Homo sapiens: one gene and its partners. The protein of the gene in region 1 purifies or fractionates together with the protein of each later gene. This does not show direct contact. Each region holds a gene or a part of one and is shown on either strand. Other genes may lie near its edges.

The links.
Region 2: the proteins of DHX33 (region 1) and RUFY3 purify together in Homo sapiens (affinity purification with mass spectrometry; one large-scale study listed by BioGRID and IntAct). This does not show direct contact.
Region 3: the proteins of DHX33 (region 1) and NPHP4 purify together in Homo sapiens (co-immunoprecipitation; one large-scale study listed by IntAct). This does not show direct contact.

What each region holds. Positions count from the first base shown.
Region 1 is NC_000017.11:5,455,451-5,459,102, forward strand, and holds part of DHX33 (ATP-dependent RNA helicase DHX33), read right to left. Parts: intron 733-3,652; coding exon 547-732; intron 1-546. UniProt on the Homo sapiens protein: Implicated in nucleolar organization, ribosome biogenesis, protein synthesis and cytoplasmic dsRNA sensing. Stimulates RNA polymerase I transcription of the 47S precursor rRNA.
Region 2 is NC_000004.12:70,805,428-70,809,079, reverse strand, and holds the end of RUFY3 (protein RUFY3), read right to left. Parts: intron 2,565-3,652; coding exon 2,421-2,564; 3' UTR 461-2,420; downstream 1-460. UniProt on the Homo sapiens protein: ARL8 effector that promotes the coupling of endolysosomes to dynein-dynactin for retrograde transport along microtubules. Acts by binding both GTP-bound ARL8 and dynein-dynactin.
Region 3 is NC_000001.11:5,905,409-5,909,060, forward strand, and holds part of NPHP4 (nephrocystin-4), read right to left. Parts: intron 1,815-3,652; coding exon 1,707-1,814; intron 376-1,706; coding exon 224-375; intron 76-223; coding exon 1-75. UniProt on the Homo sapiens protein: Involved in the organization of apical junctions; the function is proposed to implicate a NPHP1-4-8 module. Does not seem to be strictly required for ciliogenesis. Required for building functional cilia.

The DNA of each region.
Region 1 (3,652 bases):
CTGCAGTCTTAAAGGTCAATTTGAGGCAATGAGATGCAGTGGAACAAGCACAGGAATCAGAAGCAAGTAGATGTGGGTTGGAATCGTGGCCCTGCCAGTGACTTACTATGCGCCCCCTTGAGCAATTGTTACTTCCCTTCTTGGGGCCTCAGGATCCCCATGGGATCATAACCTGCCTTGCCGGTTCCCACGAGGATGACAGACAGTGGATATAAATGCTAGCACAGTGCCTGGCACGGCAAAGGCACACAAGAAATGGCACTATGGACAAATGCAATTTATGCTGGTCCTTAGAAGTCACTCGTTTACCTTGCAGCTTTGGTTTATACTCTCCCTCATCCCAACAACTGTCTCCCTGCTCCTGTCACAGGAGCGCTGCGTGTGTCACCGCGCATTTTATTCCTGCACCTCCTCAGTGCGCTGATCTGGCACCTGGGTATCCCATCCCATACACCTTATCTGGAGCCTGGTAACAGGTACAGACCTCGCTGGTGGATCCGTCTGGGTGCCCAGAATAGGGCTGGACAGAAGAGGTGGTGCACTCACCTTTGGGGCCCCTTGGAAGACTCGGAGCTGCTGTGCATAGGGCAGGGAGGCGTACAGAGGAAGGACCAGCATCGCAGGGCAGCCGTCTGGGAGGTGCTTTGCAATGTCTCGGCACGTCTTGCTCATGGCTTCGATCTCCTCCTGCCCAGTGAGGAACACCAGGATGTCCTGTGAAGAAGGGGCTTCCTGTAAAAAAAGTAGAGTGGGTTTACTAGGCATTGATAGAATTGCAGCTTGCACAGAAAAAGACAATGGTGATTGATGATGTTTCCCAGAGTTATTTCTCTTAACTATAGAAATGTAAATGAGCCTAAAAGTTGATGTCTAGCTTGGAGAGAACCCTTACCAGCAGTGTGTAAATGGTAACAGGCTGGGTGTGATGGCTCACGCCTGTAAACCCAGCACTTTGGGAGGCTGAGGCGGGAGGATCGTTTGCAGCCAGGAGTTTGTGACCAGCCTGGGCAACGCAGCAAGATCCCATCTCTACAAAACACTTTTTTTTAAATTGGTCAGGGGTGGTGACACATGCCTATAGTTCCAGCTGCTTGCCACTCCACTCCAGCCTGGGCGACAGAACGAGAACCTGACTCAAAAACACAAAAAACAAAACTGTAATATATAGGAGTTAGCCAGCTATGTTTATAGGCCAAGTGATGAAATTTTGAAGGGAAATCATCAGATTGATTTTTCTAACAAGAACAATACCATGAAAAGCATAATCAGGCAAGCAAATAAAATCTGCATGAAGCTTCCTTTCTTTTATAAGCATCTTGAAAAATGAAGTTGACAAAACAGAAGGAAACTTGGGGAAATCCTAATCTATGGAAATGAACAGGCGCAGCCATGCTGGAGAAGGAGCCTTTAATGAATGACGCCGTCGAAAGCGCTTTCACACGCCCCAAAACACACACTATACTCGGACAACTGCTTGAGATACTGAGGTTAATGGGGTTCCTCACTTTCAAATGGAACAACACCCAAGTGTGAATGACATACCTAATGCCCTGATTTTTCTTTGATTTCTGATCAGATACATTAATTTGTTTGATGTAAAGTGCTTAACACTTTGGGAGGCCGAGGCGGCCAGATCACCTGAGGTCAGGAGTTCGAGACCAGCTTGACCAACATGGTGAAACCCTGTCTCTACTAAAAATACAAAAAATTAGCCAGGCGTGGTGGCGCACGCCTGTAATCCCAGCTACTCAGGAGGCTGAGGCAGGAGAATCACTTGAACATGGGAGGCGGAGGTTGCAGTGAGCCGAGATTGCATCACTGCACTCCAACCTGGGCGACAGAGCAAGACTCCATCTCAAAAAATAAATAAATAAAATGAAGTGCTTGATGGACTGGGCGCAGTGGCTCATGCCTGTAACCCCAGCACTTTGGGAGGCTGAGGCAGGCAAATGGGTTGAGGTCAGCAGTTTGAGACCAGCCTGTCCAACACAGTGAAATCCCATCTCTATTAAAAATACAAAAGTTAGCTAGGTGTGATCCCAGATACTCAGGAGGCTGAGGCACAAGAATCACTTGGACCTGGGAGGTAGAGGTTGCAGTGAGCCGAGCTCGTGTCACTGCACTCCAGCCTGGGCGACACAGTGAGACTCCATCTCAAAAAAAAAAAAAAAAAGTGCCTAATGGCAAAATAAATAGAAAAAAATTTTAATAATTATATGTATATTTATGTATATATGTAAAAATACGTATTTTTTAATATGTATTTTTTTTCAGCCCAGTATTAACAGAACAAATGTGCAGAGGGATACACAGACAGGATAAAATCTAAAACAGTCAAAACCTCATGAGTGGGAGAATTCATCAAAGCCAGTGGTAACCTAATGCACCAGCAGCCATCATTCATGAAAAATTCTCGTTTGCTTTCTGCAGCTGAACAAGGCAGACTTCTTCCCCAAACACTATGAAAACGACAGTAAAGGCCACTGTCTTAGAAAGAAAAGGCAATGAGAGATGAGGAGTCTCAACTCATTTTGGAAGAGAGGGGAAAGGGGCTGGATGACTTGGCTAGAGGGAGGAAACTACAAATTATGTTGTGGGAGAGTGAAAACTCAGGGATTGGTTCAAAGTCTGAGTATAGAGTAGTTAAAGCCTTCAGTTCCCTCTCCTACCCAGGACGGCCAGGAGACTGGGAAGCCATGGGTCTCACCACGGGAAAATGGTGACAAAGTGAAGAGTCAAGATGACAGCTGCACAAAGGCCCAGGAGAGCCACCTGCCCCAACTGGAACAGCAGCATAAAGGACTCTGAAAAGACAGACTGTGCTTGAACACAGAACTATACACGACTGGCATATGAGATGTTGGAATATTTGGGAGAAAATGAGCCAGAGCTACCCAGAAAGCTTGCACAACTGTGTTGTTCAAGAAACAAGGTACAGGGATGATGGTGTGCTACTAGCAATGTGTGGTCATAATATTCTTAGTATTGATACTGGACTCAGAAAACATCATAATAGGCCAGACACAGGTGTGCAAGCATGTAGTCCTAGCTACTCCCAATGCTGAGGTGGGAGGACTGATTGAGCCCGGGAGTTCACGACCAGCCTGGGCAACACAGCAAGATCCTGCCTCAAAAACAAAAACCTAAACAAAAACATGATAGAACTGTCAAGAGGTTGGAGATAAAGGGGGTTGGGGAGGGGCATTCTAAACTTTTGTCACCATGGTAAGAAATTAGCATATGATGCCTGATACCCATAACTCAAAAAATAGTGGTCAAAGCAAGGTAGTTTAGAAACATGAAAGCAATATGTAGAGATTGAAAGTAGGTGCCCTAAACAGCAGAAATCTGGGATGTTGAAGTAAAAACAACTGCTATTCTTTTATTATAAACCTTTTACTATAAACTACTTGACTTTTTAAAACTTTAAATCCCATATGCATCACTTATTTTAAAATAAAAATTGACTGGGCACGGTTTCTCACATCTGCAATCCCAGTGCTTTGGGAGGCTGAGTCGGGAAAATCACTTGAGGTCAGGAGTTTGAGACCAGTCCGGGCAACGTAGCAAGACCCTGTCTCTACAAAACATAAAAAAAAATTAGCCAGGTGTACTGGTGTGTGCCTGTAGTTCCAGCTACTCAGGAGGCAAA
Region 2 (3,652 bases), on another chromosome or scaffold:
CTGGCTAATTTTTGCATTTACTTATTTATTTAGTTAGTTAGTTAATTTATTTTAGTGGAGATGGGGCTTCACCACATTGGCCGGGTTGGTCTCGAACTCCTGACCTCACGTGATCTGCCTGCCTTGGCCTCCCAAAGTGCTGGGATTACAGATGTGAGCCACCGCGCCCAGCCTAAATTTTTTTAAGGCTAATATTTATGTGTAATTCTAAGTAAAGTATCAAGTGACTGTTCCTCCTTATATTGTGTTACAAAGATCTTTTCAAATTAATTTAAAATTAGTTATAAAATAACTTTCTAATTTAGGGCAACACTCCTGTAGTCCATTTTTGTGCCCCACATCATGTATAGCACCTAAAAGAGTGCTAGCTCATGTAGGTGGCCAAAAAATGAGAGTGAAGATTCAAAAAAGAAATGTTGTTATTTAGGGTAAAAAAAAAGACAATCATCAATCAACAAACTAGGCTGGAATTACTAGATTTTATTTTTCCCCAGAACTCTTAAACTTCAGCTTCACCAAGTAACAGGCTGACTTTTGGAATAACAACTCTTTCCCAGGCTGTTGTTAACTCTTTCCAAGAGACAGAATTTATTAAAAAACATGGTTCCAGGATATTTCCACCCCAGAATTCTAAATCAGTCACAGAATCATACCTTCTTAGGTCTTGATTAGAATGAAACAATCTATAGACACACGTAACAGAATCAAAATATTATGTAATGTTTTTTGCCTTCTCTTGCTCAATACACTTCCCTCTTTTCCCCCAAAGAGTTTGTTACTCAAAGATAGATAGATATGTAAGTAAGTACAGTCAGCCCTCCATATCCATGGGTTCTGCATCCATGGCTTCAACCAACTGCCAATCAAAAATATTCAGAAAAAGAAAAATTCCACAAAGTTCCAAAAAAGCAAAACTTGAATTTACTGAACACCAAGCACTATGTTGAATCCATGCAAATGAAGTGATGTGTAGGTATTTTATTAGGTATAAGTAATCATCTTCAGATGATTTAAAGTACACAGGAGGATGTATGTAGGTTATATGCAAATACCATATAACCCATTCTCTATAATGGGACTTGAGCACCCATGGATTCTGATATCAAGTTGGGTTCCTGGAACCAATCCCCCATGGATACCAAGGGATGACTGTATTGCCCTTTTCAAGAAAGCATCTATCAGCTCTCATTCGTGACTCACTCAGAATAAGGAATTCCTTATTCAAAAAACAATGTAAGTATTCCGAGCTAACTGTTCTCAGCCATGAACAAATTAAACTTGGCCAGGTGTGGTGGCTCATGCCTGTAATCTCGGCACTGTGGAAGTCAAGGTGGGAGGACTGCTTAAGCCCAGGAGTTTGAGACCAGGCTGAGCAACCAATGAGACCCCCTCCCCGGCCAAAAAAAAAAAAAAAAAGCCAGTCCCAGCTACTTGGGAGGCTAAGGTGGGAAGATTGCTTGAGGCCCGGGAGAACAGGGATTCAGTGAGCTGTGATTGCACTACTGCCCTCCAGCTTGTGCAACAGAGCAAGACCCTGTCTTAAGAAAACAAATTAAACTTATTTTACTCTATATTTGACTTTGCTTTAATCAATATCTTCTATTTGCAAAAGCCAAACCCTATTTTTAAAACTCCTTACAATTTCCATTATGACTTGGAAAGGAAGATGGAGGGAATGGGGAAGAGTTGGCTTGTTTTGTGGAAGGAGATTCTGAAAAGGGCAGTTATTTACTTTGAAGTCATAAAGTAGAAAAACAAATGTTCTTTTTTTTGATAATGAAAACCCTTGTAGGTAAAGACCAGAAAATTCTGGTCCTGAAATTATAACATATTACAATATTGTTTTTAATATATGCAGAATTTATATTACTTTTTAATTTCTTTTCCCTGAGATTGGGTTCACAGTTTGGTAGAAATACTTTAAAGAGGTAGTTAGCAGGGGTGAAGAGGAAACAATGTTTATACTAACAGCACCTGGAAAAATAAGTAACAACTGTCATTTTGATCTCAGCATCTACCTCTCCCCCTTGAATCTGCAAATGCTATAGAAGGAGATGATCATTTTCCTTTTTATTCTTATCTGCCTGGATTCTCTCTCCTATTAAATCCACCCCAGTATCACTAATCATAAAAATGAGTTGCCTTTCCAAAGATATGCTATAAAGCAAACCTTCAATATCAGGTTGTTTAGATTTAGAAGAGAAAGGCTCAAGTAAGTTCACTTTTATTCATACAGTCATTAGAGAAAATGAGCAAAATTTCCAGTAACCCCAACCACTGCCTTTTCTCCCTGGACCTAGTAAATTCCTATCAACTCTTTAGTTGACTCTAAGAACTGGGCTCTATGAGATCCTGACAGCTAAAACACAGGTACAGAGGAGCCTGCATAAACGTTTTGGTCCAGGTCTTGGCCTCCAGTCTTATGATGGGCTGGTAGAATATTGCTTCATCAGATGCTTGTGACAGGGATTGCAAACTCGCTCAAGCTTGATACTTGAAGGAAGAGGCAGTTCATTTGTTGAACAGGCATCACAGAAGGTTCCGCTGCAGTTCTTACACACATTCTATGAGAAGAGGAGGTTAGGCGGGGAATAGAAGATGAGCAAGGCATAAGGATTCATGGGATATAAAAAGCCAAATATGGCAAATGCTCAATGCCTAATCAAACAATGACTGAATGTTTACTATGTGCCAGGTAGTATCTGAACACAGGCCCAATCTACAAAAAAGTTCACCGTCTAGTTTTTAGATTTAAATGAAAAGAAGCAGTGCCATAGAGTTAAAAATAAAAACAGGTAACATACAAGTCACTTATCTTTAGAATATCCTTCACACATCTGTTCCCCATACTCACTTTGAGGTAGGTTAGTTTTAAAATTAGTTTGCAAGTACCTGCGCATACTCCAAATAAGGCAGTGAAAGAGCAATGGATTGAGTGAACAGGCTAAGATTTAAAAATGTCCAGAGTATGAACTGAAAGTATAATTCCTAATAAATACACTGATGTGCTTTATGCTTTCCTGTGGTCTCTGGTGCTCTGTAAGCACATCCACTGGGTTATCAATGCAGCAGGAGCACAGCTTCCTGCATCTTGTTCATAGGGAAATTATTTTGTTTTCCTAAATGTTTTGCATCTTTAATGGTCAAGCACAGAGAGCAAGAAGTCACTATAGCAATGTCAGCAGTAAGGCTGTGATAGGGTGGTATACACAAAGCTCCAAGGGTCCTATATAAAAAGCTGTAAAGAATAATTTCTCCCATGAAGTGCTACCTTCATCCCAAATAATTCATCTTCCTGAGGTTGAGAGGAGTAGGGGGTTGCTTTTATCTGAAAGCCTAAGAAGAATTTTTGTCTGACATACAGAAGCTAATATTGCATGGCTTAGAAGAGGAAAGCCAGAATTAACAGTTTGTTCTACTTTGTAACATATTTCTATAATTGTAACTTCCAGTTCTATAAGGGCAGTTCATTTGTTATCTGATTCTGTGAATTTAAGACTAGGTCATATTATAATTTATTAAAATTTTGCATGATCACAGATGGTGCTATGCAGGTTGTGATCCAGAATTTGAGCCTGTTTCCTGTATCTCTTCCAAGCATGTGTTTCATACACTCATTTGTACATAACTTTTCTTGAGGATCTACTATGGA
Region 3 (3,652 bases), on another chromosome or scaffold:
TTGGCATCCAGAATCTCGGGAAAGCCGGAGGACTGCAGGAGCACCATGGAGGCTCTCGAGGGCTGCCCTGCAGAGCTGAGACACAGAGACTCCTCAGGTAGCCTCCCGGGAAAGGGGGGACCCATTGATGCACCTCCCTGTGGAAACCCTGGGGTTCACAAGGTCCAACAGTCTGACGGCACAGCACGTGACTGGTTCCATCCCACCCAGACCCACACCTCACCTCCTGGTCTGGGTTCCCACAACAATAGGGGCATGCAAAGGCGTGAACGGCAGCTCCTGTAACTGTTCGGCAATGGATGTTTCCAGGACCAGGGAGGTCTGGCTCAGGTCGGCTTCCAGGTGGGAGATACCGGCCTCCAACGGGAACTCCTGCTGAACAAAACGAGGGCTTCCAAGTGAGGCCACCAAGGACCCCAACCCGTAACAACCAACGGTGCTCAGATCTAAGGGGATTCATCGATTAATTGCCTCTGGAGGGTTGCCAGCTCTAGCAAATACAAAAGGTTCAATTACACTTGAATTTCAGGTAAACAACAAATGATTTTAGTATAAGTATGGTCCCTACGATATTTGGGATATACTTACACTAAAAAATTATTTGTTGTGTACCTGAGGTTCAAATTTAACTGGGCATCCTATATTTCACGTGGCAATCCAATGTGTGAGTTGAGAAGCGGTGAGGAGGGAATCCTAATTTTATGAGCAGGTCAGGACCGTGGGAGATACCTGACACCTGAGATGGTAAATTCATATCAAAGCATGTTTATAGAACAGAAAGATGAAGCTTCCTCAATACTCCAAGATAAACTGTGGCACCGAGCCCCTGGCTGGCGTGTTTGGACAGTCTCTTGTCCCCACAGCCCCTGAAACTTCTTGTCATTCACTCGTATTCCACCTCCACTCCCCTCCAAGGCCGAGGCAGGCCTCTCAGAGAGGAGCTGGCTTGGGAGTTGGGAATGTGCTCTCTCAAGCTTCATTCCCAAGCTTTCTGTTTCAGCCCAGAGGAAACCAGGTCACCCTCACACCATGTCTCATGCGCCAATAATAAAAAGCTAGGCAAGCTCTTCACAAACACATGAGCCCCAGAGATGCTTTAGATAAAGCAGCAGAGACTCATGGTGCTAGGAGTGTTTTCAAACAAGGAATTAAAAGAAACTATTTTTCCTCAACATAATTCCAGTTAAGACCAAAGATGCAGTTTGCAGGTGAACCAGCCGACTTTGGAAACCAAACTCCATAGGAATTCCCCAAGGCCAGTGGCAATGCCAGTCTTAGCCAGGAGCACACCCTGAAGCCAGGATGGCGGGCTCCACTCACCTCCTTTAGCTGCTGATAGCAAGGAGGGTCCTGGGGTGCTGGGTGCCTGTCTCAGCCTGTCTATAGATATAGCCACACCTTCCTTTTACTTTCACGTAGAGACCTAGGGGTAGCTTAACTTTGTTTTCATGGGTAGAGCACAATCTGAGTCAAGCGCTGTGGTATGAAGAACTCATGGGCCACATTCTTCTTTGGTCTCCAAGACAGAATGGTGACAACTGTCTGAGGCCTCAGAGTAAGCAATGCCCCACTCCCACCCACATCCCAGGTAACCCGCCAAGGTCTCTGCCACCTAACTAAGGACAGGCACAGTGCAAAAACCCAAAATGAGGAGCTGTGGAGCCATTCCTTGGTGGAAGGCAAGGCGGCAGGTGGGCGGCACTTACTGCCTGGGCCGGGGAGGCCTGAGAGCCATGGGGTAGCTGTGAAGTAGGCCTGGCCAAGCAGTGCTGAGTCGGGGACCGCGGGGAGGCCGCCAGCTGGGAAATTGACAACTGGAAGGAAAGAGAGCACAGGTGAGGGGCTCAGAAGCTTGCCAGTCCGTCCACAAAGCTCCCAACATGCACTGGCCACACCGGGGAACGGGGTAGCCCTGGATCCAGCCACGGAAGGGAGTGATGCCTGCAGCCTCCTGGCCAGGGCAGCTCTGGAACCTGGGACCGCTTCTCAAGTTCCTTTATTTAATGACAGAGAGGTGATTCCATGATCTCCCCCAGATCATAATATCTGAATAAGAATATTATTAACAAGGAAAACAAGCAAGAAAGGAGAAAGCATCTCAAGCTACAGGGGCGGCCTGGCCTCTGCCTCTCTGTCCCTTGCCAGCACTGGACTGAGCACCTCCAAGGCCCTGCCAGTTCTAGCCGCCTGCGTTCCTATCGAACAAACCTCCCTGTTAAGGCAATGACCATCTTGATGGCCAGCGCGGGCTCTGGAGACAGCTGTGGATAGAGTGCCCGTGCCAACGTGGCATTACCGTGGAGTGCCCGCACCAATGTGGCATTACTGTGTAGCCTCAGGCAAGTCAGCTAACCTCTTTTTGCCTCAGTCTCCTCACCTGTAAAATGGGGGTAATAATAGTACCTAAACTGCAGGACTGTTAGGAGAATTAAATGACAATCCTGGCTAGGGTTTGGCATAGTACCTGGCACACGGTGAGCCTTCTATAAATACTGCAGATATTTGGAAATGAGTGCGGCTTAAAACACTGATGCGGAGGGCTGGGGGCCCACGCACTACTGAAGACACAGATCTCAAACCCGGACTCTAACTCCAGTACACACAGCCAGCACCTGAGACATTCACTGTCAGCAATGATGGCTGGCCCACACCAGGTGCTGGCAGAGAGGCCCCAATGTATGAAGAGGCACTGAGGAATGAATGGGGGGCGGGGTGCATGAAGCATCCCCAGGGGACCCTGGCAGCATCTTCAGGGAGCAGAGGAGATCTTTGGGGCCTACCCAGCTTCCCTCAGACCCTATACGGTATCGTGACCACTCGGGGTCACGTGGAAACTGCTCCAGGGAAAATGCCAGGTTGGGCCAGCAGGGAAGCCTGGGAGGCCGTCCACAGACTTGCGCCTTTAGGTGAATCCAGTATTCTTCACTCCTGATCCAGTTTCCCACTGCAGATGACACACTAAAGCTGCTTCCTTGGAGACAGCCATGGATACTGAATTAGTCAACTTTTCTAGAAAGTCAATTTCCAGGATGATGCTGGCAGACAAAGTCATCAGCAGGAACAAGCCACATCTGACCTCACTGCAAATCACATAGCTAAGGCCAGCCTTGGAGCCACAGGTGAGCGCCACGGGTGTCTCGGGACTCCAGAACGGCAGCCAAGCAGGAGCTCAGCTCAGACCGCTGGCGGGCAACGGCCCAGCGGGAAGGCGCCTCTCCTCCCACTCAGGAAGTTCCAGCGCCACGGGGATCTGTGCGGTCGGACGTGCAACTGCCAGCAGCTTGTGGTTCTCAGCAGTGCCACTGTCTCCACCAGCATCGGCTGCTTGGCCGACAGGGCCAGGGGACACCAATAGCTGCCAGGCACCGCTACTGGTGGAGTTAGTCTGGGAGAGCAAAGAGGGTGAGGACCACACCTCGATGTCTCTCAGAAAAAGCAAAGGCCGTCCAGTCCTGAGAGTTGCCACCATGAGATGCAGCTGCCAGGGAGATGTGGAGACGCCCCATACAGCAGCATAGGGGTTGCAAGCAGCAGCCCCACTAAAAGCCCGCACTGGGAGTCAGAACATCAGGGACAGGCTGCACAGACAGGGTAGGAGGGGACAGCCCCGCCGCCGCCAGCAGGCCCTCCCCAGCCACGCAGAAGCACGCAG